4 linked regions of the Homo sapiens genome follow. The protein of the gene in region 1 interacts with the protein of each later gene in a pairwise test. Each region holds a gene or a part of one and is shown in the gene's direction. Other genes may lie near its edges. The genes, in order: SERTAD2, HELLS, PARVG and ZNF524.

What was found.
Region 2: the proteins of SERTAD2 (region 1) and HELLS interact in binary tests that used the Homo sapiens proteins (3 or more experiments, as listed by UniProt).
Region 3: the proteins of SERTAD2 (region 1) and PARVG interact in binary tests that used the Homo sapiens proteins (3 or more experiments, as listed by UniProt).
Region 4: the proteins of SERTAD2 (region 1) and ZNF524 interact in binary tests that used the Homo sapiens proteins (3 or more experiments, as listed by UniProt).

What each region holds. Positions count from the first base shown.
Region 1 is NC_000002.12:64,650,914-64,658,384, reverse strand, and holds the start of SERTAD2 (SERTA domain-containing protein 2), read left to right. Parts: upstream 1-4,471; 5' UTR 4,472-4,765; intron 4,766-7,471. Other genes in the region: uncharacterized protein LOC124907776, read right to left, coding at 3,674-4,105. UniProt on the Homo sapiens protein: Acts at E2F-responsive promoters as coregulator to integrate signals provided by PHD- and/or bromodomain-containing transcription factors.
Region 2 is NC_000010.11:94,569,781-94,576,802, forward strand, and holds part of HELLS (lymphoid-specific helicase), read left to right. Parts: exon of another isoform or gene 1-1,607; coding exon 1,608-1,649; exon of another isoform or gene 1,650-4,179; coding exon 4,180-4,407; intron 4,408-4,773; coding exon 4,774-4,956; intron 4,957-6,881; coding exon 6,882-7,022. UniProt on the Homo sapiens protein: Plays an essential role in normal development and survival. Involved in regulation of the expansion or survival of lymphoid cells. Required for de novo or maintenance DNA methylation. May control silencing of the imprinted CDKN1C gene through DNA methylation.
Region 3 is NC_000022.11:44,190,905-44,197,926, forward strand, and holds part of PARVG (gamma-parvin), read left to right. Parts: intron 1-1,144; coding exon 1,145-1,200; intron 1,201-2,896; coding exon 2,897-2,919; intron 2,920-5,250; coding exon 5,251-5,309; intron 5,310-5,442; coding exon 5,443-5,511; intron 5,512-7,022. UniProt on the Homo sapiens protein: Plays a role with ILK in promoting the cell adhesion and spreading of leukocytes.
Region 4 is NC_000019.10:55,595,728-55,603,308, forward strand, and holds ZNF524 (zinc finger protein 524), read left to right. Parts: upstream 1-4,560; 5' UTR 4,561-4,681; intron 4,682-6,347; coding exon of another isoform or gene 6,348-6,385; coding exon 6,386-7,180; 3' UTR 7,181-7,411; downstream 7,412-7,581. Other genes in the region: FIZ1 (flt3-interacting zinc finger protein 1), read right to left, coding at 1,845-2,138.

The sequences.
Region 1 (7,471 bases):
CTCTTTTGACGAGAACTGGTGCTGATCCTAAATCCGTGACCAGTCAATTAAGAAACTAAAAAGTCATAGATTTATCATGGTTAAGTAATTAATGTGTACAAGATCTTCAAACTCCTAGTCCAGGACTTTTCCTGTCACCAGGCTGGTTCCTGGGGGCAAGAAAGGTCTGTGCAATTTCTAACATTCATTGAAATTTTCTGTGGAAGCTAGAAGTGTGCTCAGTGCCTTGAGAAGAGTGGGAACTTCTCAAGAATGATGGATGGCTTATAGACAGGAATAAATACATAGTCGATGCGTAGAGGCAATGTGTGTTGTGTAGGGAGCTGGGGATGGGAGATGTTTCTGAGAAGTGACCACCAGTCTTAGTGGAGTAGTGTCCCTACAGGAGGGAACCCTGGAGTTGTCAGAGTCACCAAGAAGGTTCTTTGCATTTTGATAGACTGCACAAGGCTTTTGAAGATTCAGTGGAAAATGGAATAGGAAGGAAGCTGATGCCTAACAGAAGCCATCTTCTCCAGTAATAGTTCGAAGGGACTGACCCCAAGTGCTAGAAAAAAAGGAAATGGTTTTAAAAGCATTTTCTTTAAATATTGCCATGAAGATTGTGTTTCAGGTTTAGATTTACATATTGTCAGATTTTTAAAAGAGAAAAAGGTATATCTTTAACAGACAAGTGAAACCTCCCTCAGAAGGTAAGAAGCAGTCGTTGCAAAGCAGTTCAATGTAACAACATGGAAAGCTTTGCAAAGGGGCCTTCACTGGAGCTGTAGTTCTGCTTTTATGAATTGTGACTTCAGGGAGGAGCAGAAAAAAACCATGACAAAAGCAGGTGGAAGAAGAGATGGAGAAAAGTTTGCAGAAGTAGAGGAGTTCACTTGCTGCTTCAATAGAATTGTTTTAAATTGTTAGTGGCTGAAAAGGACTGAATCTGCCTGTGCCATCTTTGCGAGAGTATTTACTTTTCCAAATCATTGTATCCTCTATTGACTCCTTGCTAATCAGTTAGGTGATGTGACTTCCAGAACTTTATTTTGAAGACTTATTCCAATATTCATTTATCCGAATGATGAGTCCACAGTTAGGATCTCCGTATTTTCCATGAAAAGCTTATTTAGCCTAGCTGGCTCTATACAATTCATTTAATAACTGAAACATTTATCTTTTTTGCCATAAAACCAAGACCAATATTTGCAAGGTATATAGATGGATGATCATTACTGGCATTTCAGGTGGAACCTGAAAGATAAAAATTTAATAAAAGCAAAGGAAAAATGAAATTAAGTTCAAAACCTGTTGTAAAGTCTTTGTTTCTCAGTTTATATACCCAGTTTGCCCCTTGTGTTTTTGGTGTGTGCTAATTAAGTGCCAAAAGTGGCCTTCAGTTAGTGCACTAGTGTACTAGTCTATAAGATGTGAGGGCACAGAAACTTTCAAAGGAGAAGCAGTGAAGTGTAAACTAGTACCCAGAACTACAAAATGATGCCGAGAAGTACTTCTCTGAAATTAAACTCAGGAGCATTTTTAAAATTTACCATCACAGTTCTATACTTATAAAAGAAATGTTTCTTTTCTCCCTAAACAGATATGTTCCTGGTAGTTAAATGTGGATGACTAGCCTAATTTCTTATAACTGTTCTAAAGTTATGTTATATGAAAGTGAGAGGCAGATCTTCTAAATTCTGGATGAGGCCCTCAGAGTAGGATTATTTTAAATGGGATTTTGTTTTGAGACAAGATCTCACCTACATTGGAATGCAGTGGTGTGGTCATTGCTCACTGCAACCTTGAACTCCTGGGCTCAAACAATCCTCCCATCTCAGCCTCCTTAGTAGCTAAGACTATAGGCATGCATCACCATGCAGGGCTGATTTTTTCATTTTTTGTGGCGATGGGGGTGTCGCTATGTTGGCCAGAATGGTCAACTCCTGGCCTCAAGTGATCCTTCTATCTAGGCCTCCCAAATTGCTGGGATTACAGGTGTGAGCCACTGCACCCAGCCCTTAAATGGGCTTTTAAATCTCCCAAAGAGTGAGAACAAAATTTACATATTCACTAAACACTGCTTATTCAATGACATGATTTGAAATAATATTTTATTGAATAAATATTTCAAATCATGTCATTGCATACTGAAGGGAGCTGACTTCAGAAGTGTGGAAAGTGCCTTTCCTTATCCTCATAGACTTGAATTTCTAGGGCTGGGTAGAGATTGCTGTCCTGGCCTATGTGTGGCTCAGCCTTGGGGTAGGGGGTTGCATAAGGGGAGGGAGAGGGTTAACCAGCTGGTGTTAACCACATTGGCAGCTGTTGAAACTGCCAGCTCACTTTAACTTCTTGGTCAAAGATGCCAGATTCTAAAAGTGGGGGAAGTGGGAGCTATTTGTAATGTGTACATTGATAAGATGTTACAGCCTTCAGAGGTATAAAGAGATGGAAACTATTTCACTCCAAAAACGCAGGTTGCTGGTCTCGTTAAGAGCGCAAACCTTTGTTTGAGCAGGTACAGAATACAGACCTTATGGACTTCAGCAGAATCCTGTCTATCCTAGTGACACAAAATTGTCACTTTGACTTAAATCCTGTTATTTTATACAGAAACACTGCATTTGGTGTAATCTATTTGCTAGAAAATATCCAAGTGTCACAAAAGTTCTGCAAGTGTAACTTCCTGCTTACTTTAATTCAAGAATAGCAGTTTAAATTCACAAATAGCAGTTTAAATTCACCTTAAATTCAACAGAGCTAATGCCTCTGGCCTCCTCTACAAAGATATCACAGGAAGAGATTATTGCAGCTTCTATTTCAATGGCTTTTCCTTAAAGTGAGCACTGAAAGTATAAGTGAGTGGGTGGTTAGGAAACTGTTAGTAGTTAATGCCCTCTCTAAACTGCAGAACTCTGGAAATGAAAAATATCTTCGCTTCACAGCAAAATGTTTGAATGTTATGCCACTCAGGCGCAAACTGAGCAAGACCTGCAGAGGGCCGGTGAGCACAGCTTCCATAATATGTCATTTTGAATGCCATTATAATGAGACTTTGCAAAGATATCCACAAATAATTAGCTTTTGGCTTAGGTTATACTGTATAAGACTTTAATTATACTGAGGGTCCAGTAAAAACCTTTTCCATCCTCCTTAAAGATAAAACAAGAAGCGTTGTCTCCTCTATCAACATTTCAGCACAAGTTTAATTTCGATGAGATCATCAATTTGATTGATAACAAATCATTACAGAACAGTTTAAACAAGTCTAAATTTCTCTTGATGTTAACGACTTACAATCGCCTTTATGTTAGGTCTTAAAGCTTTATTATTCTTAAATACAACTAGTATAGTGGACCATTAAACTCCAAAGTGATCTGAAATGATATTGATTGGGGTGGCAGCCAAAATTTTAAGGTGCCTGCCTGCATTGCCTTTTACATCTTGACGCTGAATGCACGTGTAATTTTTAAAATAATCATTAATTTTCCAGTGGAACCATCTATCTGGCCTCTTTCCCTAGTGCTCTTAAATTCTCACCATTTGGGCATACACACATTCTCTTCCAACTAGTATAAATTTCCCTGGTAAATTTAAGTAGTTCCAAGCATAAGCTTACTCCACGGGAGGGAAAGGCTATCAATGTGAAACTTGTGGGCAGAGGACTGCGCCTCCGACCTGGCTGCGTCTCCTAGCTTGGCTTCCCTCCTGCCGGGTCTGCACCGAGCCCCGGCCGGCCCCGAAGGATGCAACTCGTTCGGTCCGGCTCCCAAAGTGCCGTGGACTTGGTGACCCACTTCTCGTGTCGGGCTGAGGCCACGCGGGCAAGGGACTTTTTCTGTCCCCGGCTCACGGCTGGAGCCCCCATCCTGCCGTTCGGACCAGTGCGGGCCTCGGAGGAGTGTCCCGCAGCGGACCCCCGCCCAGGAACCCCTGCAGGCAGCGAGACGGGCGCCCGGGCCAGCTCTCTGCCCCTCGCCCCCCGCGGGGACCCTGCCCGCCCCGCTGACCGGCCCCACGTTGCCAAATAGCTCAAATGCTTGTCATATTTGCGGTCGCGCGGCTCCGCGGGCTGTGCACGCGCTGCACTCGCCGCCGCCTTTGTCACCAGCCGCTTCGTCATTCGCCTGAGCACTTCTAGAGTGTGTAGGGGGCGTTACTAGTGGCAGTGGTGGTCCTCGGGCCGGAGTGTCTCCTTCTGTCTCCCCTCCTCTTTCAGCCCGTCCTTACGAGAAAATCAGGGGCGCGCCGGCCCGGCAGGGAGCTGGGGGCGGCGCTGCCACCAGGCGCCCACTGCGCCCCGCCGCCCCTTCCTGCTCCTCCTGCGGCCGCGGCCGGCCGCGGCCGGCCCCGGCCTTTATCGCGCCTCCCGGGACCGCCGGGGAGAGGCGGGCCGGGGCGGGGCCGGCGGGGGCGGGGTCGGGCGGCCAGGGGCGGGGCCTGCGGCGCCGGGGCCCGGAGCTCGCGGGAGGCTCGCGGGCCGCACGTCACTCCTGCACGGCGAGTGCTGGAGCACGACGTACCGCTCGCTCGGTCAGGGCGCCCCCTCCGCCCGCCTCCTGCTTCCTCCTCCGCTGCCTGCCGCCGCCGCCTCCACCATTGTATAATGCTCGGGGCGCGCAGGCAGAGAACGGCGGAGTCTTAGCTTCAGCCTCGCCTGCTGCCCGCTCCCCGGCGCCACCCTCGGGCCCCTGGAGCGGGGCACTCCGCATGGAGCGGGAGTAGCTGAGGAGTGGGCGGAAACCCCTCCTGATGCGTTAGTTCCCAGGTGGAGCTGCATGTGGTAAGTTCTCCCGGCGTCGGGCTGGAGGGGATCCGCGGGCGCGGGGGGCTCCGGGTGGATGGGGGGCCGGTGTTGGGACTCGGCCAGGGCTGGGAGAGCCCGGAGGGCGGAGGAGGGGCCGGGCGCCGCCGCGGGAGGGAGCCGGGGACGGAGCAGGTACGGGAGGAGCGCTCCCTCCCGCGGCCCCGGTCCGGGCCCCGCGCTCTCGGACCCCCGGCGCCTGCGGGCTGAGCCGCTGGGGGGCAGGGCCGGGGTCAGGAGGGGGTCGGGAGCTCGGAGAGCCGAGCGGCGGGCGGGGGCGCCTGGAGCTGTCGCCTCTACAGCTGGGATGTGTGTGCGCGTTGTGGCGGTTGTGTTGTTGTGAACGTGCGAGACTTTTTTTAAGGCTCGGATTGCTGGCGCGAAGGCTGCTTCACTTTTGAGTTCCGTGGCCGGGTTTGCATCCAACTTACTGTAGTGCGTTTTTGTGAATTTCCCGGTGTTTTTTTTAATAATGTTGAAAACCTTCCTCTCCACCCTCTTTTCTTTCGTCCATGCCCAAATGAATTGATTTGGGATCTACATGTATATTAAACTTAACGTCTCGTTGGTTTTTAAGTTAGAAATCTACAAGTCATCTTCGTGGTAACCGCCTATGACTGAAAGGGAGGGGGCTGAGGGGAGCCAGCTGTCCCAAGCCCTAGACTTTGTACCAGTAAGAGAGGGGGTGTCGTCACAGGGCCACTACATGGACAGAAAATCGTATTTTGTTTTGTTTTCTTGGCTATAAGTTACCTTTAGCAGAAGTGGTAGTAATAGATTGCGATGGGAGTCGAGTTTTAGGTTTAGTTTCTAAGTTTCACGAAAATATCAGGTATAGTTTGCATTGGAATAACTTTTTGCTTGCAAGCCGAGTCGTTTCAGGAGGTAGAAAGTAAGTTTTCACAGACACTGAATGGGGAGGACAGTCAGCAGAGTGAGACAGCCAGCCTCAGACCACAGCAGTTTTTATTTGAATCGAATTGGGCAGCCTCAGTTGGGCTTAGGGTAGAGAGTACATGTTTTCAAGCTTTGTTCATGAAATACGCTTTTTGATTTCCCAATGTATGTTAAGAAATATCCATAATGTGTGTAAAGAGGCTAGAAGTTGTAGTCACCAGGATTCCTGAGGCCCTAAGTGTTCACAGTAGCTTTTTGTAGTTAGAGACTAGTCCCTGACAAGAGTGAAGTGGGCTTTGGGCTTCGCTCCGCCCCTGAAGGACCGTCCACCTGAGAGCGTCTGGGCTGCTTGGCCGATGGGGGTTGGGGGTAGTTGCTCAGCTCAGCAGAAGGCATGTCTCACCCTGGCAGCTCCCATCCCTCCCCCTTTTTATAGCAGTCTATTCTGATATGAGTGTGCTAGGGTGTGCTGTGAAGATGAAAATATCCATCCTAAGATCCCAACTTCTGGAGTGAACAAGAATAGTTTGTTTGTGGATCTCTGCTTTTCTGTTTATTTTTTCAGGGTTTTTTTTCTTTTTATTTAAAAGAGACAAATGTTTAAAAGTTTTCCTTTAGCTTCATTGACTTCTTTAGAGGGGTATTATATGTTAATATAAAATTGTTTATGTCGTTCATTAAGTTTGGAATCCTTTAACAGTTTTTTTTTTTTACTTGTTTCACCCCCTAATTAAAATATACATAACCATGTTGTTCTCAGATGAGAAATCTTATTTTGGATTTGACATCCCCCAACCCCCTTTTTCCTTAACACCCGGCCCTTTTCCTTACTTCATTCAGACAGGTAAGGGAGAGGACTCACATTTTGTAAAGCCAACCAAGTGTATGTGTGACAGGAGGTGTCCTAGGGAACGGTTTTATTGTCAGGCGAATGTCACAGCGTCTTAGGTAACAGCTGCTCAAGCTTGTTTCCCTTGAAGAACTAAGAGAAGGATATTAATTCAGATTTAGAAAATCTTTACACTTCTGTTTGCTGAATTGTCCCTCTTTAAAGCTTTTCTATTTAATTGAGAAGCTAAAATATGAATTTTGCCCAGTTGCTACACACTGAATTATTACTGATAATGAGCCTAGTAAAATAGCACATATTTTGATATTTTAAAACTCATTCAAATTTGTGTGGCGACTGATAGCTTATGGTATCTGCTATTTTAAACAGGGTTCCAATGGCAGAGTAAGTTACAACACTACTTTAGAAAGGCACACACATGCATCACACACAAAAAACATTACAAAACGTATGAAGGCAGTTTGAAGATGTTCGAATGCAAATACATAAAAATTTCTATCAACTTGCAGCATGCTACTTTTATTATCAGTGTCCAATTATACTACAAGTTTACCCTCAGACAAAATATTTTACATTTTAGTAACTAAGAAAGGTGAAAGCTGGAACAGAAACTTTGAGAGGTTTCTTTTGCTGTGGTTTCTTGTTAAAAAGCACAGAAAAAAAAGTATGAAGCTTTATTTTATATTTCACATATATCAACAGAATCAAGACCACTTTGTCAATATTACCTGTGGAAAAAGCTATATATAGATAGGCGTATTTGGGGCCATGAACTTTAATTCACTCATAGAATTTTTAAAGCTTCTTGGCAACAGAAATTTTGTATTCACTGTCATGGCATATCCTATAGGAGATAGCTCTAGTTGCAATAGTTACTTGGTGCGTGAGAGAGAGAGCAAGCGCAGGCGCCGTCTCTGATTACTGAGTCCAAAGATCAG
Region 2 (7,022 bases), on another chromosome or scaffold:
AAATCAGGATCCGAAAAAGTTACATAAATTGTGTTTGATTAATGCGTATCTTGGGTCTCTTTTAGATCTAGAGTGTCTCTCATCTTTTTTAAGAAACATTATTTGTTGAAGAAAATGAGTAATTCTGTATAATTCCCCACATTCTAGACTTTACTGATTGTATCCCCATGATTTCTCTGCCTCTTGTGTTTCCTGTTAACTATAGTAACTATAAGTTAAATACGGAAGTTTGTGATTAAGGTGTTTTTTTATTTTTTTTTTTATTTTTATTTTTTTTTGGGAGACAAGATCTTTCTCTGTTGCCCAGGGTGGAGTGCAGTGGTGCCATCTCGGCTCATTGAACCTCTGATTGCTGGGCTCAAGCAATCCTCCCACCTCATCCTCCTGAGTAGCTGGGACTACAGGCGTGTACCACCAAGCCCAGCCAACATTTATATTTTTTGTAGAGATGGGATCTCACCATGTTGCCCATGCTTGATTTTTAATAAGAATACTTCATTGGTGGTATTTATAGATTTTGATTTATTTCCAAATTGTTCTTTCAAAAGTTTCATTTTATCTAGTCATTTTACAGGACAGCTTTTATCAGTTCCTGGTATAAAATCCTTTTAGCCTCAGCCTTATAATATGAATATCTATACATACATAATACTTCATACACACACGATATACATATATTCCCATGTATATATATGTGTGTGTGTCAGCCACTTACATGTCCTGTTACTCTTCTATGAATCTTAAATTTGATATTGCTGTTTTGAATCTACTTCATCCCCTATGCCTTCTATATTCTCTCTGCTTGAAATCTACCCTCACTATCTTGAATGATGAAGCCTGGTGACAACTTTTTAGATAATTTTATGTAAGATAATTATTTGCTAAGTCATCCAGTGACATACTCGGGTATTGTTTGTCTCCCTACCAGCAGCATCTAGTAGGTACTTCAAAATCAGAGCACTTTATTCTGTATTTTTAATTTTTTCTGTCTTTGCCTCTTACCCAGGAATGCAAACTCAGATGTCTATCCACAGAGGCCTAAAGTGGGCTGTAACATGGTTTGGCAAACTTTTTCTGTAAATAGCCAGATAGTAAATATTTTTAGCTTTTGAGTAGTTTTGTGGGCAACTACTCAACCCTGTACTCTGCTGTTGTTGCTTGAAAGCAGCCATAGACAAACCGTAAACAAGTGAGGCTGACTTTGTTCCAATTTATCCCATTTCTTTGCTTTTAAAAAAATACCTGTGTATTCGCTTAGCTGGAGTTGGTCTACAGGCTGTAGTTTGCTGACCCCAGGACTAGAGGTTTGTTGCCATGTGTGAATTTGTACTTAATCTACTCAGATTAAAAGAAAGAAAAGCTGGAAAATCACTGTATTTGATGAAATATCCCATTGTATAAGTGTTCCCAAATTAGCCTAGAATGTTATGAAATATTATGAGCCAGTAATGTCTATAGGCTTATTTCTGCCTGAAGGCTACTAGTTTTATCTTGAGAATCTCATCCTCATTTCCTGGCAAAATGAGCACAGAATAAATGCTTGTTGAATAAATAAATAAATGAACTTCATACATTATTAATTTGTTTTTGTTTTCTCAAACTACTAGGAAATTTTGTCTGTGGCTAAAAAAAATAAAAAGGAGAATGAGGTAAGAAATTTATAATGTAAGATTAAGTTTAGAAGTCATATTTACTCCTCAGTTACTAGTCCTTTTTCTTTAATCAGCAGTATACGTTCTTCTCACTATTATCCTGTTTCTTTGCTTTAAAAAAAAATACCTATGTATTCACTTCTTCCATATCCAACATTCTTCTTTTTTATGTATCAACTTTAGTTAGTTGTTTTATTGCATGATTCTTGATGTATAAATGTTAATTTATGGGTCTAGCAATGTTGCTTTTAACTTGTGAATCTGGCAGTGATACAAGTGCTCGTAACCATGTGGATATAAACCGTGAATCATCTTATGGAAGCTGTGAGGGATGCCTTAATCTTGCTTCAGACCTTAAAGATTTTTTAAGTTTCTTAAAAGTTCTGTTTGAGAAGGCTTGATTTCCGAGCCACCTCTTCACTTAGCCCATTTCATGTAGAGAGGTTCCTTGTTATCTGACTTTTTATTGTTCAAGTACTTAAAATTACAAGGTTGCCTAGGGAAGCAAAATAATCATGACATGAAAATATTCATGAATGGATATGAACTTCAGGTAGTTAATTTACATATTAAAGATTTTTAGGCCTTTGGGAAATTAATGTTATGTTTATAAAATGAGAGATAATCTATTTGGTCATATAATTTTGTCCAAAATTTATATTGTAAAAGTGTCTTGGTTTTTATTCTTTGTTAAGTTATTAAGGACTGGTTTATGGGTGCAGTTTAGTTGGATTTTTAAAGATTTAGTTAGATAAACATTTAGTTGGATTTTTAAGATAAAGTCTAGATGTAATCTTCTGTAATTTACTATGGGATTTTGGCTTCATTTTATAACTTACAGTCAGTAAGAAATAGTTGTTAAGTATGGTATTTTAATGAATTTCGACACTTGCATACACTTGTGTAACCACCATCCAAATCAAGGTATAGAACATTTCCATTGTAAAGGGATCTCTTCTATGTCTTTCCACCCCCAAACCCAGAGGAGGCCACTTTTTACACCTTTTATAGGATGGCTTATTATTTCCTTTCCACTCAACATGTCTGTGATACTCATTTATGTTGTTGAGCATATTAGTAACCGGTTTCTTCTTATTGACTAGTATTCTGTTGAATGAATGTTACAATTTTCTCATCCATCCCCTTATTGATGGGCATTTGGGTTGTTTGCAGTTTGTGACTTTTATGAGTAAGGTTGCTATGATAATTTGCACACAAGTCCATGTGTAGACATGTTTTCATACTTTCTGCCTGTGTACCTGGGAATGGTATTGTTGTGTTACGTGGCAAATGTGTGTTCATAAGAAAGTACAGATTTTCCCCCCCAAAGTAAACACATCATTTTATTCTCTCGCCAGCAATGTTTGAAAACTCCAGCTTACATTATTGTCAGCATTTGATAGTCTTTTTAATTTCAGCCATTTTATTAGATGAGAAATGGTAACTTGTGTGGTTTTTAACTTGCATTTTCCTAATTACTACTGAAGTAGAGTATATTTTTATGTTCTTTGATAACTATGTTTTCTTTCTTTTTTTTTCTTTTTTGAGATGGAGTGTCACTCTGTCGCCCAGGCTGGAGTGCAATGGCACGATCTCGGCTCACTGTAAACTCTGCCTCCCAGGTTCAAGCGATTCTCCTGCCTCAGCCTCCCAAGTAGCTGGGACAACAGGCTCATGCCACCATGTTCAGCTAATTTTTGTATTTTTAGTAGAGACAGTGTGTCACCATTTTGGCCAGGATGGTTTTGATCACTTGACCTCATGATCTGCCTGCCTTGGCCTCCCAAAATGCTGGGATTACAGGCGTGAGCCACCATGCCCGGCCTGTATGTTTTCTTTTGTAAAGTATCTGTTAATATCTTTTGCCCGTCTTATTTATGCGTACTGTATTTTCTGTGTAACAGTTTAATAAATTATTGAGTATCACAATATTAGAAGTTTGGAAGAGAGATACAATTCTAATGATCTTTTCAAAAGTATGTGCCTGATTTTAATTTGTAAGGGTTATTCTCAGATTTTTATATTTTATTTTATTTTATTTTATTTTATTTTTTGAGATGGAGTCTTCTGTCACCCAGGCTGGAGTGCAGTGGCTGTGTTCATGGCTCACTGCAGCCTTGACTTCCTGGGTTTAAGTGATCCTCAGCCTCCCGAGTAGCTGGGATACAGGCAGTTGCGTGCAACCACACCCAGCTAATTTTTTGTATTTTTAGTAGACACAGGGTTTCGCCATGTTGTCCAGGGTTGTCTTGGATACCTGGACTCAGGTGATCCTCCTGCCTCAGCTTCCCAAAGTGCTGTGATTGTAGGATTAGCCACTGTGGCAGCCTGTTATTTTTTTTTTTAGTAGCTTTTCATTTGTAGAGGGATGGCGATGTCTCCAGTTTTTTAATCCAGGTGTGATCTTAGTCTTCTATACTTAATGATTATAGGACTCAGTAGATTTTGTTAGTTGCATTTTCTGATAAATGGTGGCATACAGCAGCATTTTGTATAACACATCTTATTAAACTTTTTTTCTCTACAGGATGAAAACTCCTCCTCTACTAATCTCTGTGTGGAAGATCTTCAGAAAAATAAAGATTCGAATAGTATAATTAAAGATAGATTGTCTGAAACGGTTAGGCAGAATACTAAATTCTTTTTTGACCCAGTCCGGAAGTGTAATGGTCAGCCAGTACCTTTTCAACAACCAAAGCACTTCACTGGAGGAGTGATGCGATGGTACCAAGTAGAAGGCATGGAATGGCTTAGGGTAATGAATTGGAATTTTTAATACAAGATACTGGTTTTATTTCTATAGTAGCCTAATGATTTGAGGTACCACAACTTGAGTCATTTCTATCATGTTTCACTATTATACATTTGTATGTGGATACTTGCTTTCTGATTTCTTTACCCTGAATTTTTAGAAGTAGAAATTACCTTGTTAATGGCTTCCAGCACTTTTATGGCTTTGATAAAGGACTTTCCAGTGTTGTTATAATTTATGGTGTGAATATATCAGCTTTAACATAATTCTCATCTTTGGGTGTGATTTTTTAAAGAGAAGAAATAAAATATTGTAATCCTGTAGTTGTTTATATCCAAGTTTAAATACAGTATCTATTATTTTGTCCAGATGCTTTGGGAAAATGGAATTAATGGCATTTTAGCAGATGAAATGGGATTGGGTAAGACAGTTCAGTGCATTGCTACTATTGCATTGATGATTCAGAGAGGAGTACCAGGACCTTTTCTTGTCTGTGGCCCTTTGTCTACACTTCCTAACTGGATGGCTGAATTCAAAAGATTTACACCAGATGTAAGACATGCTTCCTTATGTTAAAATTATAATTTTACATGTTTTCTTATGCTTTGTTGTAGTAGGAATTAAATTGTAGAACTCTTATAATTATATTGGTTTCTGTATAAATATTTTGTCTGATTTGACTTACTCAATCTGCACAATACCCTAATTTAAATTTATATAGTATAGGTTTTGGAAATCCCTGACATCTTTCCTAAAATATTCCTGAATGATTTTCAGTGCATTGGTAATTTGATTCGACTGAGACAGACTTAGGTAGAGATTTTATTAAAAATTCTGCTTGTTCTTCACTTGATCTTTGCCAAAAGGCTAAGAAGAGAGTTTTCTGTTTTTTCTGTACTTGTTACCTTCTGCAATTTTTTTTTTTTTTTTTTTTTTTGAAATGGAGTCTCTGTTACCCAGGCTGGAGGGCAGTGATGCAGTCTTGGTTCACTGCAATCTCTGCCTCCCATGATGAAGCAATTCTTGTGCCTGAGCCACCGGAGTAGCTGGGATTACAAGCATGTGCCACCATGCCCAGCTAATTTTATGTTTTTAGTAGAGACGATGTCTTGCCATGTTGGCCAGGCTGGTCTTGAACTCCTGGCCTGAAGAGATCTGCCCACTTTGGCCTCTCAAAGTACTGGGATTATAGACGTGAGCCACTGTACCTCCCGGGCCCAGCCCTTCTGCACATTTTTGCCTTATGAGAAATATATATATTCTAGACGTAGTATCACCATCTGTCTCATTTTATATATTTATATATATATTATTTATTTATTTATTTTGAAATGGAGTCTGTCTCTGTCACCATGCTGGAGTGTAGTAGCTGGGACTACAGGCGCACACCACAAGGCCAGGCTAATTTTTTGTATTTTGGTAGAGACAGGATTTCACCATGTTGGCCAAGATGGCCTCTATCTCCTGACCTTGTGATCCGCCCACCTTGGCCTCCCACAGTGGTGGGATTACAGGTGTGAGCCACTGCGCCCAGCCTATATGTGTTTTATGTATTTGTAGGTTTTTTGTTGGGGGGGGGGTTGTGTTTGTGTGTGTGTGTGTGTGTGTGTGTGTGTGTGTGTGTGTGTGTATGACAGAGTTTCACTGTTGTTGCCCAGGCTGGAGTGCAATGGCACGATCTCGGCTCAGTGCAACCTCCGCCTCCCGGGTTCAAGCGATTCTCCTGTCTCAGCCTCCCAGGTAGCTGGGATTACGGGCGTGCGCCACCACGCCTGGCTAATTTTGTATTTTTAGTAGTGACGGGGTTTCTCCATGTTGGTCAGGCTGGTCTGGAACTCCCGACCTCAGGTGGTCTGCCCGCCTCAGCTTCCCAAAGTGCTGGGGATTACAGGTATGAGCCATCCCACCTGGCCCGTCTATTTGTTTTTATGCCTTTTTTTTTGTCTTCAGACAGGATGTTGCTCTGTTGCTCAGGCTGGAGTGCAGTGGCGTCATTCTGGCTCACTGTGGCCTTCACCTCCCAGGCTCATGTGAGCCTGCTATCTCACACGCCTGAGTAGCTCATGTGAACCTCCCATCTCACTCCACTGGGTGAGTAGCTGGCACTACGGGTGCGTACCACCACACCAGCTAATTTTTGTATTTTTTGTAGAGATGGGATTTCTCCATGTTGCTCAGGTTGATCTCGAACTACTGGACTTTAGAGATCGGCTTGCCTTGGCTTCCCAAAGTGTTGAGATTATAGGTGTGAGCCATTGTGCTGGGCCTGACTTTGTTTTTTTGTTTGTTTTTTTTTCATTTTCTCCCATAATAGTTCAATGATTTGTTAGAATTGCTTGGCTTATTTTGCTATAGAAAAATAGAAATAAAATTTTTTAAAATTATATTTTTTCCCTCAGAATGATTTATATTTTCTAAATAGTCAATATTTACATTTTGTTCTTAAGTCTGATAAAAATCAATATAAAATTTTTCAGATCCCTACAATGTTATATCATGGAACCCAGGAGGAACGTCAAAAATTGGTAAGAAATATTTACAAACGGAAAGGGACTTTGCAGATTCATCCTGTGGTAATCACGTCATTTGAAATAGCCATGAGAGACCGAAATGCGTTA
Region 3 (7,022 bases), on another chromosome or scaffold:
GCCAGCTCCACTTGACCTCAGCAGAGGGCATCTGGCTGGCAGAGGCTGAGGCCAGGGGCTGTCAGGCCATATCCCTGAGCCATGCGTGGCCGTCCGTTCATTGCCACGGGGAGCCTTCACGCCCTGAGCAAAACCAATGCTCTCACCATGAGGGTACTGTCTCCTGTGAGATTACCGATGGCTGTGACAGTGCCCTGTTCTCTTTCTAGGAACCTTGCCGGGTTTCCCCACCCTCAGATGTTCTGTCTAGCATGCGGCCTGCCTGTGCTGCGGTTAATACCCAGGAATCCACGACTTCCCTCTCCAGACAGACTCTGAGCATCACAATAGGGGGCCCCACCAGCTCTTTGCTTCTCATGACCGCCCCCACCCCACCCCAGCCTCGGGTCCCTCATGCATAGGGGCTTTGTGTGTGAGGGCTTGCCTCTGACTCGCCCCAAGAGAATAAGCCAAGTTTGGCCACACCCAGTCAGAGTCATTTCTATTTTTTTTTTTTTTTTTTTTTTTTTTTGAGATGGCGTCTTGCTCTATTGCTCAGGCTGGAATGCAGTGGTACAATCTTGGCTCACTGCAACTTCTGCCTCTCCAGCTCAAGTGATCCTCCCACCTCAGCCTCCCAAGTAGCTGGGACTACAGATTTGAGACACTGTGCCTGGCTAATTTTTTGTATTTTTGGCAGAGATGGGGTTTCACCGTGTTGCCCAGGCTGGTCTTGAACTCCTGAGCTCAAGCCATCCACCTGTCTTAGTCTCCTAAAGTGCTGGGATTACAGGCGTGAGCCACCACACCCGGCTTTCTACTGTTTTTTAAAACCATTGATTATAATTCCCTACCAAGCAGTTGTGTGGCTTGGTCTATACTGCCAACATAAATCAGAAGTGACTTCATTGATTCACTCCTTCACCATTCATTTGTTCATAGTCACATGCTCATTGATACTGCCCTCCTCCCACTGTGAGACTCTGGGGATGCCTTGGGGAGTGAGGCAGACACATCCCCAACCTCAAGACTCCTGGGGAAGAAAGACAATTAAGCCAGAGGCTGTCCTGAGGAGGGATGATACAGAGCAAACGGATCACTGGGGCTTCTTTGGGCCCCAGAGTTTTCTGGATTATTTAATTTCTTCCCCCTTTATTTTTCTTAGAGCACCAAAAGTGGTCTGAAGTCAGAGAAGTTGGTGGAACAGCTCACTGAATACAGGTGAGGGAAGGATGAGGGCCCATGGGTGGGGCTGGGGCTCACAGCGGTGGATGGGGGCAGGGTGGGGGCCAGGGCAGATCTGCCTGACCTTTGTGGGAAGGGCCCTCACATTCTGTGGCTTTCTCTCAGACCCGAAAATGCTGCGCTGACCTCTCAATCCCACGGCAGCACACAGGACCCCTTTCTAGCCTCCAACCAGGTCCCTGCCTGGCCCCTCCCAGCCACCCTGCTTTGTTTTCTAGGGTGGGGGCCCCTGGGTTTGGGGTACAGGGCCCAGTGAATCTGTCTCTCTAGTGTGAGCAGGATGTTCCTCTTTCCTTGCAAAGCTGTAAGAGTTAGAGGCCCCTGCATGGCCAGGGGCTGGCCGTCTTGCTGCCTGCCCACTTTAGGGTGTGACTGTCTTGTTCCCCGCCCACTTTGGGGGTGTGGCTGTCTTACTCCCCACCCACTGGGGGGTGTGGCCATCCTGCTCCCTGCCCACTGGGGCATGGCCATCCTGTTCCCTGCCCTCTGGGGAGTGGCCATCCTACCTCCTGCCCACTGGGCATGGCCACCTGCTCCCCACCTACTGGGGTTGACCATCCTGCTCCCTGCCCACTGGGGCTGGCCATACTGCTCCCTGCCCACCGGGGGTGTGGCCATCCTGCTCCCTGCCCACTGGGGCTGGCCATACTGTTCCCCACCCACTAGGGCTGGCCATCTTGCTCCCCGCCCACTGGGAGCATGGCTGTCCTGCTCCCCATGGAGCAGAACAGGTGGGGCCTGGAGAGGGATGGGCCCAGGGGCTGCACAGGCTGCCAACAGGTCCACCGTTGCTGGCTTCTGTGTGGCGCTAACTCACGATCTCTCACAGGGATGCAGCCAAGATGCTGGCCAGGTGGGGCTGCCATCCTCTGAAGGCTTGGCTGGGGCTGGAGCTGTGTGGACAGCACATGGTGTCTGTCTCTCCTGGCAGCCTTGGCCTCTGTGCTGAGCCCAGGTCTCTGTCACAGGCTGCTGGGCTCTGCCCCGTGGGCCCCAGCTTTCTTCTGGAGGGCTGTGGTTAGAGAGACTTGGCCTGCCCTGGACCTACAGAACTTCTCTTCTATGGGGTAGAGGTGGATCTAAAAACGTGACCAAAAAAAAAAGAAGAAGAAAAATTGTTCAAAAACAATAAAAATGGAGTGAAAGAAGCCAGACCCAAAAGAGGACACGCAGTATGGTTTCATTTCCATGAACTTCCAGGACAGGCAAAACCAACAGATGGCAAGAGAAATCGCAGCTGTGGTCAGCGTAGGGAGGGAGAGGATGGAAGGGAGAACACGGGGGGTGCTGGGAGGTTCTGCAGCATGTAAGTGGGGGTGATCACACAGGTGTGTATGTGTAAAACGCACAAGCTGTGAGCTTACGATTTGTGCACTTTATGATGTGTGTGATGTATCTCCCTCAGAACAGAACACGAACAACAAAACCAGCAAAGTCCAAATGTTTCTAGGTGTGGAAGCCTCAGGGAAGGGCATGAACCTGTTTCTGCCCTTTGCTTCCCACAAAGACCTTCTCTGCTATCTGCCCTACCTACAAAGCTGCCAGGAAAACCACAAGCATGCCAGTTTCTTTGCAACCTTGCCAGCACTGAGGCTTGTCATATTGAGAAATTGTAGGTTTGCGGGGTGTTTTTTTTTTAACCATTTGTTTGCTTTTTCCACCCACTGCACAGCACAGACAAGGACGAGCCTCCAAGTGAGTACTTTCATCATTTTTGGAAATCTGTTCCTATCTGATGCGTGTTAATGCAGACAAGTCTTAATGCAGGGTTAATTGCTGAGCATTCTCTCATTTCCCTGTCACTTGCTGTTTGTATCTCAAGCCTCATTCTTATTCATTTGTCCCTCTTTCTGTCTGTCCATCCATGGAGCTGGCTGCTCCTTCTCATGATACTGTTCCTGTGGGGAGAGAGATTTATAATTCACATGGGCAGTGATGGTGGAGTCTGTTAAATGTGTGGGCTCTGGAGTCAGTGGCCTGGGTTCAAACACCAGTGTTCCCACTCATTAGCCACTTAAGTTTGGGCAAGTATCTTAACTTGTCCGTGCCTCAGTTTCCTCATCTATAAAAGGGCACTCACCTTTTAAACTGGCAGTGAGGGTTAAAGGAGATAATGTATGAGTGTGTTCAGCATGTGGGCAGTGCTCAATAGTGAGTGGGCAATAATGTGGCTTCTGCTCTTCTGACAGAGCTGTTCACCAATCAGTTGATTGTTCTAGTTGTTACTTCTTTCATGCATCCATTCCTTTGTCACTGGTCTGGCCAGCTCTTCCCCTTCCCATCCATTAATCTATTTATCCATCTATTGATCCATCCTTTCTTCCATTCATCTATCTACTTACCCACTTATCCACCCACCCACCTATCCATCCATCCATTCATACACCCATGCATCCATCAACCCATTCTTCCATTCATCTATCCACCCACCCATCCATTTATCCATCCCTCCATCCATCCATTCATGCCTCCATTCATCCATCCACCTACCCATCCATCACCTGTCCATCCATCCATCCACCTATCCATCCATCAACCTATCCATCCATCCATCCATCCATCCACCCACCCACCTATCCACGCATTCATCCATCCATCCATCCCTCCATCCATCCATTCATGCTTCCATTCATCCATCCGCCTACCCATCCATCATCTATCCATCCATCCATCCATACACCCACCTATCCATATATTCATCCATCCATCCATCCATCTATCCATCCATCCACCCACACACCTATCCATCCATCCATTCATCTATCCACCTACCCACCTATTCATCCACCCATTCATCTATCTACCCATCCAACCACCTATGTATTCACCCATATCCATCCATCCTAACACTATTTTTCCTCCCTATACCCTCCCCACTTAGACACATAGCTATGTGGGCAGGGATGCTATGAGGGGCACCTTCCCTGCAGAGGTAGAGATAATAACCTGCCAGGAGCTTCTGAGAATGGGGGCTGAGGAAGGCGGAGTTTGGGGAGAAAGGAGAAAGGAGGGGCAAGGAGGGCTGGCTGAGGATCTGTGTATGTAGCAGGAGGGGCAGCCTGAGGACATGAGGGGTTGCCCAGGGAGCAGTATTTTGGGCAGGGGGCAGCATGAGAAGTGGGTGTCAGAGGGTGAAGAAAGGACACAGAGCAGGGGCATTTTAACGTGCATGATGCTATTTGGTGCTACTTTTCCCCCTTCACTAACAAGGGAACTGAAACAGAGAGAGGTGCTGTGACTTGCTTAGAGTCACACAGCTGCTGAGTGGCAGAAGCCACAGCAAACTCAGGCCAGTCTGTGTATTTGGTGCCCAAGGACCAGTGTCCCCATGGGAGGTATGTTAGCTGCAAATAGCAGGAATCCAGCTAGTGCACAAAGGGCATTAGCCTGAGGACATGGGCACCCGAGGCTGGACCCCAGGGCCTGAGCCGCTGTTCCCAGACCCCAAGGGAGTGACTGAGTTGCTGAAGAGCTGGCCTTTTGCAGGCAGCAGGTTCAGACACTCTTGGGGGCGGGGGGAGGCAGCAGGGAGCAGTCCTCACTCAGCCAATTTAAAACCAAGGGGAGGAGACTCATGGACCCTGATCACCCACCTGTGGCAGCTCCCGTGGCCCTGGGGAGTGGAGTAGGGCCCTGGGAGGAGGGAGTGCCAGCTGGCAGATAAAGGGATGCAGCTGTGCAGATGTAGTAACAGGTGTCAGCTGCAGGAAGAGTGGCTGTTTATGAAGTCCTACTGTGTGCCCAGTCACTGTGCCATGGGGCCATGTGTGTTATCTGCTATGGAATTCCATCTCTGCAACAACCCCAGCTAGGGAGGCACAGAGAGAGACGGTGACTCCCCTGGGGCCACACGGCCAGGAGAGCAGTGACTCAAATCCAGGTCTGTTTTATTTGAGAACCATGATGTAAAACGACAGCTCCCTCTGGACTGGTTATTCTAAGAAACTTTTGTGAAAAAAAAAATTCCCTGTTTGGCACAAAGATAATAGCATCGTAATGAGGTGTTTATTGGATCTGTGTCTGCAGAGGACGTCTTTGATGAATTATTTAAGCTGGCTCCGGAGAAAGTGAACGCAGTGAAAGAGGTAGGAGAGATCAAAGCTCTCAGCGGCTCTCAGGCTGCCCACCCCACCCACTGCCCACCTGCGCTGTAGGAGGGAATCACGGGTCCTCCCATCACACCTGCTGTGTGCTAGGCCCTTGTTCTTCCCTGGTTAGGCCATCGTGAACTTTGTCAACCAGAAGCTGGACCGCCTGGGCCTGTCTGTGCAGAATCTGGACACCCAGGTAGGGACTGAGCTGCGGCGTCCCCAGGCAGGGCAGGGCCACTGGCCGTAGGAAGGAAAGAGGGTTCTGCAGGCCCTGGGAACCTGCTGTGTGGTGGGGGTTGCATCACCTCTTGGAGCCTTAGGGTCCCCCTCCCCGGTGGGACTGTTGCTGGCAGGCAGCAGTGGTCACCAGGGACATGGTGGGATCCCGGGGGTGGAGGTGTGGGAACACTTCACAAAGCTGGAGTCACCTCGGCTGTCACTGCTTCTCATTGTTATAATTTTATTTTATAATTAATCTCAGACTAGCTGATGCCAAGACTTGAAGCATATGAGTCTTCCCTGCGTGGTTGTGTTCGCCCAAACAGAATTTATTAGATTTGTCCCATGTGCCAGGCGTAGGTGACAGCGCAGCCCAGCCGTCTGCAGGCTCCATGTCTCTCACAAGCACCCTGAGGAGCCCAGCCCCTCCCCCGGCTGACTTAAGTCGAATTTTCCCAGGAGCAGGAGCAGAATCTCAGGGGGTCAGCACCCACCATGGGCTGTGGCTTTCCACAGTGAAGCTGTGTCCCTGTAGGCTTCCCACACTGCAGGGGAGCAGGGGGTGCACAGTAGCAGACCGGCTGCCAGCCCGGGGCCTGCAGAGTGGGCATGGAGTCTGCTGGATGCCAGTGGCCTGAATGGGACATGACGTAGGCATCTGGCCACCTGGGTTCTGCTGGGTGCTGGGGTCTGGGGTGGGGAGGGAGTCTGGTCCCAGATGGACCAGTTGGCTCATGAAGATCGTAGCCAGAGCTGCTGACCTCTCAGAGAGACTCTGGATGGGCATTGGCTGGGGAGGGAGGGGTTAATGTACTCCCATGCCTAGTAGCTAAAACCAATAAAGCCCTCACTATGTGCCAGTCCCAGGGCAAAATGCTTTCCATGTTAACTCATTGAATCCTCTCCATAATCCTCTGAAGTGGGAACTGTACTACCCCACTTACAGAGGAGGATGTTAAGGCACAGAGAGGTTAATTAACTTGTCTAAAGTCACACAGTGATAAGTAGTGGACCTGGGATTTGAACCCAGGCAGCTGGGGCCAGAGTTAGTGCTTATAACCACCTCACATGGTGGCCACGTGAGAAGTTTGTGTGTGATATGGTGTGGCAGCATGGCAGGGTGGAAGTATCACGCTCTGTAGCCAGACAGACACACATTTCCCTCCTGCCTCCACCACTTATGGGCCCTGGGGTCTGCTGAGAACCCTCCACATTTGCTGTGTGACCTTGGGTGAGTTACTGGACTTCTCTGAACCTCAGGCTCTTCTTCTTATAAAGTGGGTACAAGATAGCAACTTGGTAGAATTGTGAGTGATACATGAGCTGGTGAGCCCCACGTGTTTGGTATATTACCTGGCACGCTGCCGGCATGAAATAAGTGAGAGATTTGTAGTTTTATTATATTTTATGTGGGTATAAACAGGATGATTTCTGAGATTTACATTCTACCTGTTCTATCTGTATCTCTCCCTTGGTAAAATAATGGGT
Region 4 (7,581 bases), on another chromosome or scaffold:
TTGCTTCCTTGAAAGTACACATTTTGTTCCCTGGATCCGGAAAGCCTCGGACCCCAGAGGCAGATCATTCCTCACCTTTTTCTCGGGAAAACCATCCCTGACCCCATCCCCGATCCAGACTGCTTCAGCTCTCTCTTGCATTAGCCTCAGAATATGGTTATCCTCCATCCTCAGATGTCTCGGCTGCAGCCTAACATTGATTAACCTAGTTGTTCAGTTCACATCTCCCACATTTGACTCGAGGCCATACAAAGGGTGGACTGTATCTGTTTTGTTCCCTTAGCTATTTTTTTTCCCCCAGAGAGCCTAGCACTGTATCTAAATACAGTAGGTGCTCCTGAAATGGTTCAGTTGAATCACAACCTACTGGTGGGTGGGGGTGAGGCCCCTCAGGGGACTGTCAATTGTTGCATCAAGCTAAGGAGCTCCCCTTTCATCCTAAGGATCAAGGGATTTAAGCAGGGGTCACCTGGTCACTCTGTGATAGATGCAGAGACTGGATGTGAGGGAGAGAGACAGGAAGGAGGGAGACCACTGAGAAAGCCGGGGCCAACATTCAGGATGTGAAGTCCTGAACCAAGGCAGATGCATGGGGACAGAGAGGACAGCCAAGTGTGAAAGACCATCGGTAGATGCCTGGTTTTCTTCACCCTGGTTGTGCAAGTGTCTGGCACATAGACAGAGTGTGACCTAGCCCGTCCCATCTTTCACCTTACCTCCTTCCACCCCAACCCCACAGTCTCCCATCGCTTCCTGGAACACAGCACACTCCTTCCTTCCTCAGGGCCTTTGCACTTGCTGTTCCTGCTGCCTGGAATGCTCTTCCCAGGGAGGATTCCTCACACTGCAGGTTGGCTCAGGTATCACCTGCCCTAACCTTCCCCACCTGTCTGAAGTAGCCCATAGCTCTCCTCTCTTTACTCTCACACATTGATTTGTATTTTTTGTTTGTTTGTTTGTTTGGAGACTGAGTCTCGCTCTGTCGCCCAGGTTAGAGTGCAATGGTGCAATCTCACCTCACTGCAACCTCTGCCTCCCGGGTCCAGGCGATTCTCCTGCCTCAGCCTCCCAAGTAGCTGGGATTACAGGTGCATGCCAACACGCCTGGCTAATTTTTGTATTTTTAGTAGAGACAGAGTTTCACCATGTTGTCCAGGATGGTCTCGATCTCTTGACCTCATGATCTGCCCACCTCGGCCTCCCAAAGTGCTGGGATTACAGGTGTGAGCCACTGCGCCTGGCCAGTATTTTTTTGTTTCTTAAAATTTCCCTCCTATCTTTTTCCAGAACATTCTTGCCAGCATACTTGCTTTCTTGCTTCTTGTCTACTTGGCTACTGACCACCTCCAAAAGAAAGTAAGTTTTCTGAAGGCATGGAATTTGCTTTTGCCTTGGCAACACAGCCGTTTGGTGCAGGGAAAGCTGATAGTCAATGAATAAAGGAATTAAGTATATAACTGATAATCAATGAATAAAGGAATTAAGTATACACCTGATAAACCTAAGTCTTAAAACGGTAAGGAAGGAAAGGATAAACACTAGATTGCAGATGCTGGTGCGTGCACGCGGGGTATTGGCAGGGAGATGGGGCGGGCAGGAGCCTATAGATGGGGAAATTTACTATGAATGTTCCAGTTCGTGGGTTGCTGGTGACTGAATGAGAAATAGCGCATGCTTTCAAGGGTCAGGGTGCTTTGGTAGGGAGGGAGGGACATTTTCTAATGGGAGGAGGCGGGCGCCTAGGCCTTGGGCCAGCTTCCTTTTGCCCAGAGTACAGTGGGGCGCGGGATCCCACCGTAGTCCTGACCAGGGAGGCCAGCCTAGGGCCGGCCTGTGGGACTCACCTGGTGGTGCAGCAGGCCGGTGGAGTCGCGGAACCCCTTGGGGCAGGCAGAGCAGCGGTAGGGCCGCTCCCCGGTGTGCGAGCGCAGGTGGTTGGCTAGGTTGAAGCTGTGCTTGAAACCCTTGCCGCAGCGCGGACATGCGTGGGGCTTGAGCGCTGTGTGCCGGGCAAAGTGGCGCCGCAGGTCTGAGCGGTAGCGGAAGCTCTTGCCACATTCACTGCAGTGAAACGGGACCCTGGGGGCGGCAGCGGCGGGCGGTGCTGGTGCAGGGGTTGGGGCGGGGACGTCATCCATGGTGGCGGGGAATACAGTGGTATGTGGGGGCTCTCTCTGGAGTAGTGGGGAGACAGAGGAGCAGGTGAGGGGGTCGGCTCCCCATCAGCTCTCTCCTCCCAGGTTCCCAGACCCACCACCTGTCCCCTGGGAGACCCTCCCACTGCCCACCTCTCTAAGCCACTCTCATTGTTCTTTAAAATCCTCCTACTCTCTTAGAAACCCTTCTCTCGCGGCTCCACGCCTGTGGCAAAATCTTCCTAATCACTTCATAGTCTCCTCACTCCACGGAGTGTTTTTAAGCCTCTCCTCGCTCTTCGCCAATGCGCGGCCACTGCTCTCTGTGCCCCTCCCACTGTAATTTAAGCCTCTCCCACTCTTCCTTAAGTCCCACCTACTCCCTTCAAAGTCCCCCACAATGTTCCCTAAGGATCTTGTATTCTTTGCCAAGCCCTTTTCCTTCCAAAAGGCCCTCCCACTCCCCTCTAAGCTCCTCCCACTCCTCTTCCAGGATGACCACTTAGCGAATGGGAGGGCAAAGATTTGGGGCTAAGCACACTGGAGTCATCCTTGCAGGGAGACCAGAATTACTCCTGTAACATCAGATAATAAAAATTCTTCATCTGTAAAATGGGAATAGTAGTACCTACCTCATGGAGTGGTGGCGAGAATTAAGTAAAATTGTGGCAATAAATGCTACGTGCCCACTTAAGCTGGTGCACAGCAAAGACGCAACAAGTAAGCTGTTTGGATGACTATTATCCCGTAAGTTCCTCCTGGATTCCTCCTTAAGTCCTACCATGATTGCTAAGTTATTTGACTTATCTAAGCCCCTCTCGGGTCCACTAAGACCCACTTCCAAAACTCCACCCAATTTTTCCTTTAAAGAAGCCACATCCTTTCTAAGACTCTCCACTGGACTCCCGTCACCTTCTCAGGCCTTCTCTACGAAGTCTATTCCCATCCCCTGCAAGTCCTTTCCACATTCATTATAAAGACCTGATAGTTGCATTAAACCCCTCCAAATTACACCCTTAAACTCCACCCCCCTCACTAGGCCTACCTACTTCTCTAAGCCACACCCCAGACAAACTCCATCCCTTCTACTCTAAACTCCTCCCTCCTGCTTCCTGGGCTCCCTTTACCCAACCAGCCTCAATGAGTTTCCTTCCACCCCTCAATCCAGGGCCTACCCACCATTCCTTCTGAGCCACGCCCCTTTATCAAACCCCACCTCTTTGCCTAAGACCCTCCCATTTTCTATCCAGACTCTCCCTCCTCCACGCCCCTCCCACTTCCACTCTAAGCTCCGCCCAACTCAGGCTCCTCCCAGCCCTTGCTCCGCCCCAGCAGCCACTAGGCCCCGCCTCCTCCTCCACCCCGCAGCCTGAGGAGCGGGCCCCCCCACTTGCCCAGTCTGCTCCAGGCCCCAGGCCCCGAGAGCCGGCCTTTTGTGCCCCTCCCCCTGCCCCTAAAAGGTGCAGCCCTGGGCGCCCGGTTGGGGGGCAGGTCGGGCAGGCCCCGGGGCCAGGCGAGTCCACCTCGCTCGTACGGAGCGTTGGTCCTGGAGACCCGGGGCGGCCCCGGGAGGCCGGGGAAGTCCGTCGGCTTTCCTCTTTAATTACTTACACCTCCCTCTGGGCGCCGACATTTTGGGCAGCGGGGGCAGCGTCACTTCCACCCGGGGGGCCCCTCGACTTCCGCCTCAGCTCCCTTCCCCCGCCGTACTCCCCCTTTCTCCCGCCCTCTTGGCTCCCCTTCCTCATCCCCGCCCTTCTCCCTCTTTCCCTTTCCTTTCCCAGCCCTGGAGGTTGAAGAAGCCAGGCCCGCGCCATCTTGGGTGAGGGCAGCGGGAAGGGGCGGGGCTTAGGGACACCCACGGCGCCATACAGACTAAGGGCAAGGAGCTGAGAGCGAGGGGGCTTCTCCGTGGCGACACTAGGCGATGCTAACGTAAATGAGAGCAGATACTATTTCTTTTTCACAGCCTCGGACTCCTCCGATTAGGATGTACAGTTGGACTAGGGAAAAAAAAAGAAAGCGAAGTGCGCCAACTGCAATACAGAGCTGGAAAAGACCGGCACCATCTTATCCACTTAGCACTCCATGGGCTTCGAAGCCTGTCCGGTGCCATGTTAATTACGGGCACTGGGCAGCCATTTTCCCGCTCCTCATCATTCGGTATCTGTCTTTGGGTCACCCGACTGTGGGCTTTGTGAGAGGAAAGGCGTTTCGAGGTGGTTGGGGATGTGGTGCTGGGTTATTTCCCACTGGGGACACACCAGGGCCGCCGGTGCGCAGGCGCGGCTTCCGGGCGTGGCCGCGACCGGTCGTTAGGACCCAGCGAGTCCCCTTTGTTTCCCGCGGGCGCGCAGGCGGGCGGGAAGGGCAGGAAGGGAGGGGCCCGGCGCTTCTCCGAGGGGCGGGGCCGGCACCGCGCGCCGCCGCCCCCGCCTCGCCGCCGCCGAGGGGCAGGGCCCCCTCACCCCCTCCCCTTCCCACGCGCCGGCCCCGTTGCCCCCGCGCGCGCGCACACTCGCGAGCCCCGGCGACATGCAAATGAGGTACCCGAGAGGCGGGGGGCGCAGGCGGGAGGGGGGGTGTGGGGGTAGGGGAGGCCGGGCCGCGCGCTCCCGGAGCGCGCCTCCAACACCTGTTCCTGCTCCCGCGCTCGCGCCCCGCGAAGCCGTCCGGGCGCGCGCGCGCAGACCCCCTTCCTGGCAGCCCCCGCCGCCCGCTTACCCGGCGCCGCTCATTGGCCGTCGCCCCCGCAGGGCCCGCCCCGCGCTTGGGCTTCGCAGCTCGGGGGCCGATGGGCGCGTCAGTACCGGGGCGAGGGGACGGGGAGGGTCGGGGGACCAGTCTCCCCCTTTCCACCGTTCCAAAGACCAGACTCCTAGACTAGGCTACCCCGTGGGAGCGAACCGTATGGAAAGGTGGTTGCTCCTCTCTGGACAGCAGTCTATGTGGCTGTTAAAGGGGAGGGGGGGGTGCAGGGGGGCACCTGCAGCACCTGCTTCCAGCTGCACCTGTGCCTCCCCTTCCCCTCCGTTACACCCCAATCCCATGCTCCCAGTATCTGAGTGGGCGCCGGGAAGATGGTGGTGGCGTTGGTGAAGTTTATTGAGTGCTTACTGTGCACCAGGCAGTGTTCGAGGGGCATTTTAAAGCCCACTGTCTTATTCGATTCTCCTGACAACCCTGGTTTATTCACTTTTCAGAGGAGGAAACTGGCAAAGTCAATTGCTAGTTATAGGCAGAGCTGAATTCAAACCCAGGACTGAGCCCTCGTAATGTCCCCTTTCCTCCTTGGGTTTATTTGTTCTCCATTCTCTGGGACATTCGGGTCACAAGACCTGTTTCCAGTTTTGGCCCTGCCATTTACTGGCAGAGGAACTTAGGCAACTGACTTGGCTTTCCTGTGCCTCAGTTTCCCCATCTGCAAAATGGGACAGATATGCCCTATTCAGAGGGTTGATGTGAGGCTTAGCTGCTCCTGATAACAATGGCTAATGTGTCCTGAAAGCTTCTGTGTATGAACACTTTGTGGGTATTATGCTCATGGCATGTCTGGGCAAGTACGTAGAACTATGTGTCCCATTTTGCAAAAGTCTTGATTAAGGCTTAGAGAAGCGAACACCTTGCCCAAGGCCACGCAGAGAGTAAAGATTTGAACGAATGATGTCTTGACTCCAGGGCCCAGGCTCTTAACATCGCAGATATGTTTCCTCATCCAGGAATCAGGGTCAAATATCACCTGGGACCAGTCCCTTTTTTCCACTCTGGAACCCCTTCCCCACTTCTGCCAGTCAGCAGGGAGGGATGAGAGCATTCGTGAGGCCTCTATGGCTCTGGAGTTTGATGGGCTCTCCGTTTCAAGGATCACAATACTGGTCTGCACTCTCAGTTGGACTCTATCCTCTCTGGAAGGTTTTTTTTTGTGGGGAGGTGGGGAGGGGTGTTGCTCATGTTGATCTTGAACTTCTAGATCCAGAAGGAGAGTTAGGGAGGCATAGGGATGTCTGGTGGAGCTCAGGGAAGTGCCTGTTTATCAGCTGATACAAGATCATCTCACTGTTTTACCCACCAGCATAGCTAAAATTGTGTATCTGGATGAATGTCAAACACACCTTTGTCAAGAGACTTGGAGAGAGGGATGGGCGAGGTGTTGGGGGACACAGGGGTGCTCTAGACCCTGTGAGCACTGACTCTGCCCCTCTCTCCTCTTAGCTGGCTCCAGTGCCCAGACCCAAGCCCCCCACTGCTCAATGGACACCCCCAGCCCAGACCCGTTGCCTTCGCCTTTGCCCGGGGAGGAAGAGAAACCTCTGGCCTTATCTCCTCCTGTTCCCCGGGGCCGCCGAGGCCGTCGTCCTGGGGGAGCCACCTCCTCAAATCGGACACTCAAGGCCTCCCTCCCTCGCAAGCGGGGCCGCCCCCCCAAGTCAGGGCAGGAGCCCCCACTGGTGCAGGTGCAGGGGGTGACAGCCCCAGTAGGCAGCAGTGGCGGGAGCGACCTCCTCCTGATCGATGATCAGGGTGTGCCCTATACGGTCTCTGAAGGTTCAGCGGCTGGGCCTGAGGGCTCTGGCCCCAGGAAGGCCCCACACTTCTGCCCGGTGTGCCTGCGGGCCTTCCCCTACCTCTCCGACCTGGAGCGCCACAGCATCTCGCACTCAGAGCTGAAGCCGCACCAGTGCAAGGTTTGCGGCAAGACCTTCAAGCGCTCCAGCCACCTGCGGCGGCACTGCAACATCCATGCCGGCCTGCGGCCCTTCCGCTGCCCGCTGTGCCCCCGCCGCTTCCGCGAGGCGGGCGAGCTGGCGCACCACCACCGCGTGCACTCGGGGGAGCGCCCGTACCAGTGCCCCATCTGCCGGCTGCGCTTTACAGAGGCCAACACGCTCCGGCGCCATGCGAAGCGCAAGCACCCGGAGGCCATGGGGGTACCCCTGTGTGCACCAGATCCAGGGTCTGAACCGCCGTGGGACGAGGAGGGCATCCCGGCCACAGCAGGGGCCGAGGAGGAGGAGGAGACAGAGGGGAAAGGGGAGCCGGCCTGACCCACACCCCCGGCCATCGCTCCCTGGGCCAGGTTTAGAGCAGGGAGTTTGGCTGGTGCTGGGCCTGAGCCAGGGGGCCGGGACACCCTTGTTTCCGGTGGTCTTCCCGTTGTGGGAGCAGGTGGAGGGTGGAGACCTAAACTTTGGGGTCCAGCTGCCTTCAGCCCCCCTCCCCCAGACTAACAGACCCTTGGAGGCAGGGGCTGTGGAAATAAATCTCTGCCTGCTGGCTGCCTGTGTGTGTTCCGTGCCGGGATGCCATCCTCTCCTGCCTTCAAATGTTCTTCCTCGGCTACACCGTCCTGTCGGGAGTGCGGGGAATTGGAGAGGACCCCACTTCCTGTGCCTCATGAGCGTGGTGCTCGCCAAAGAATGGTTTTGGGGGGAACCTTGGCCCCTTC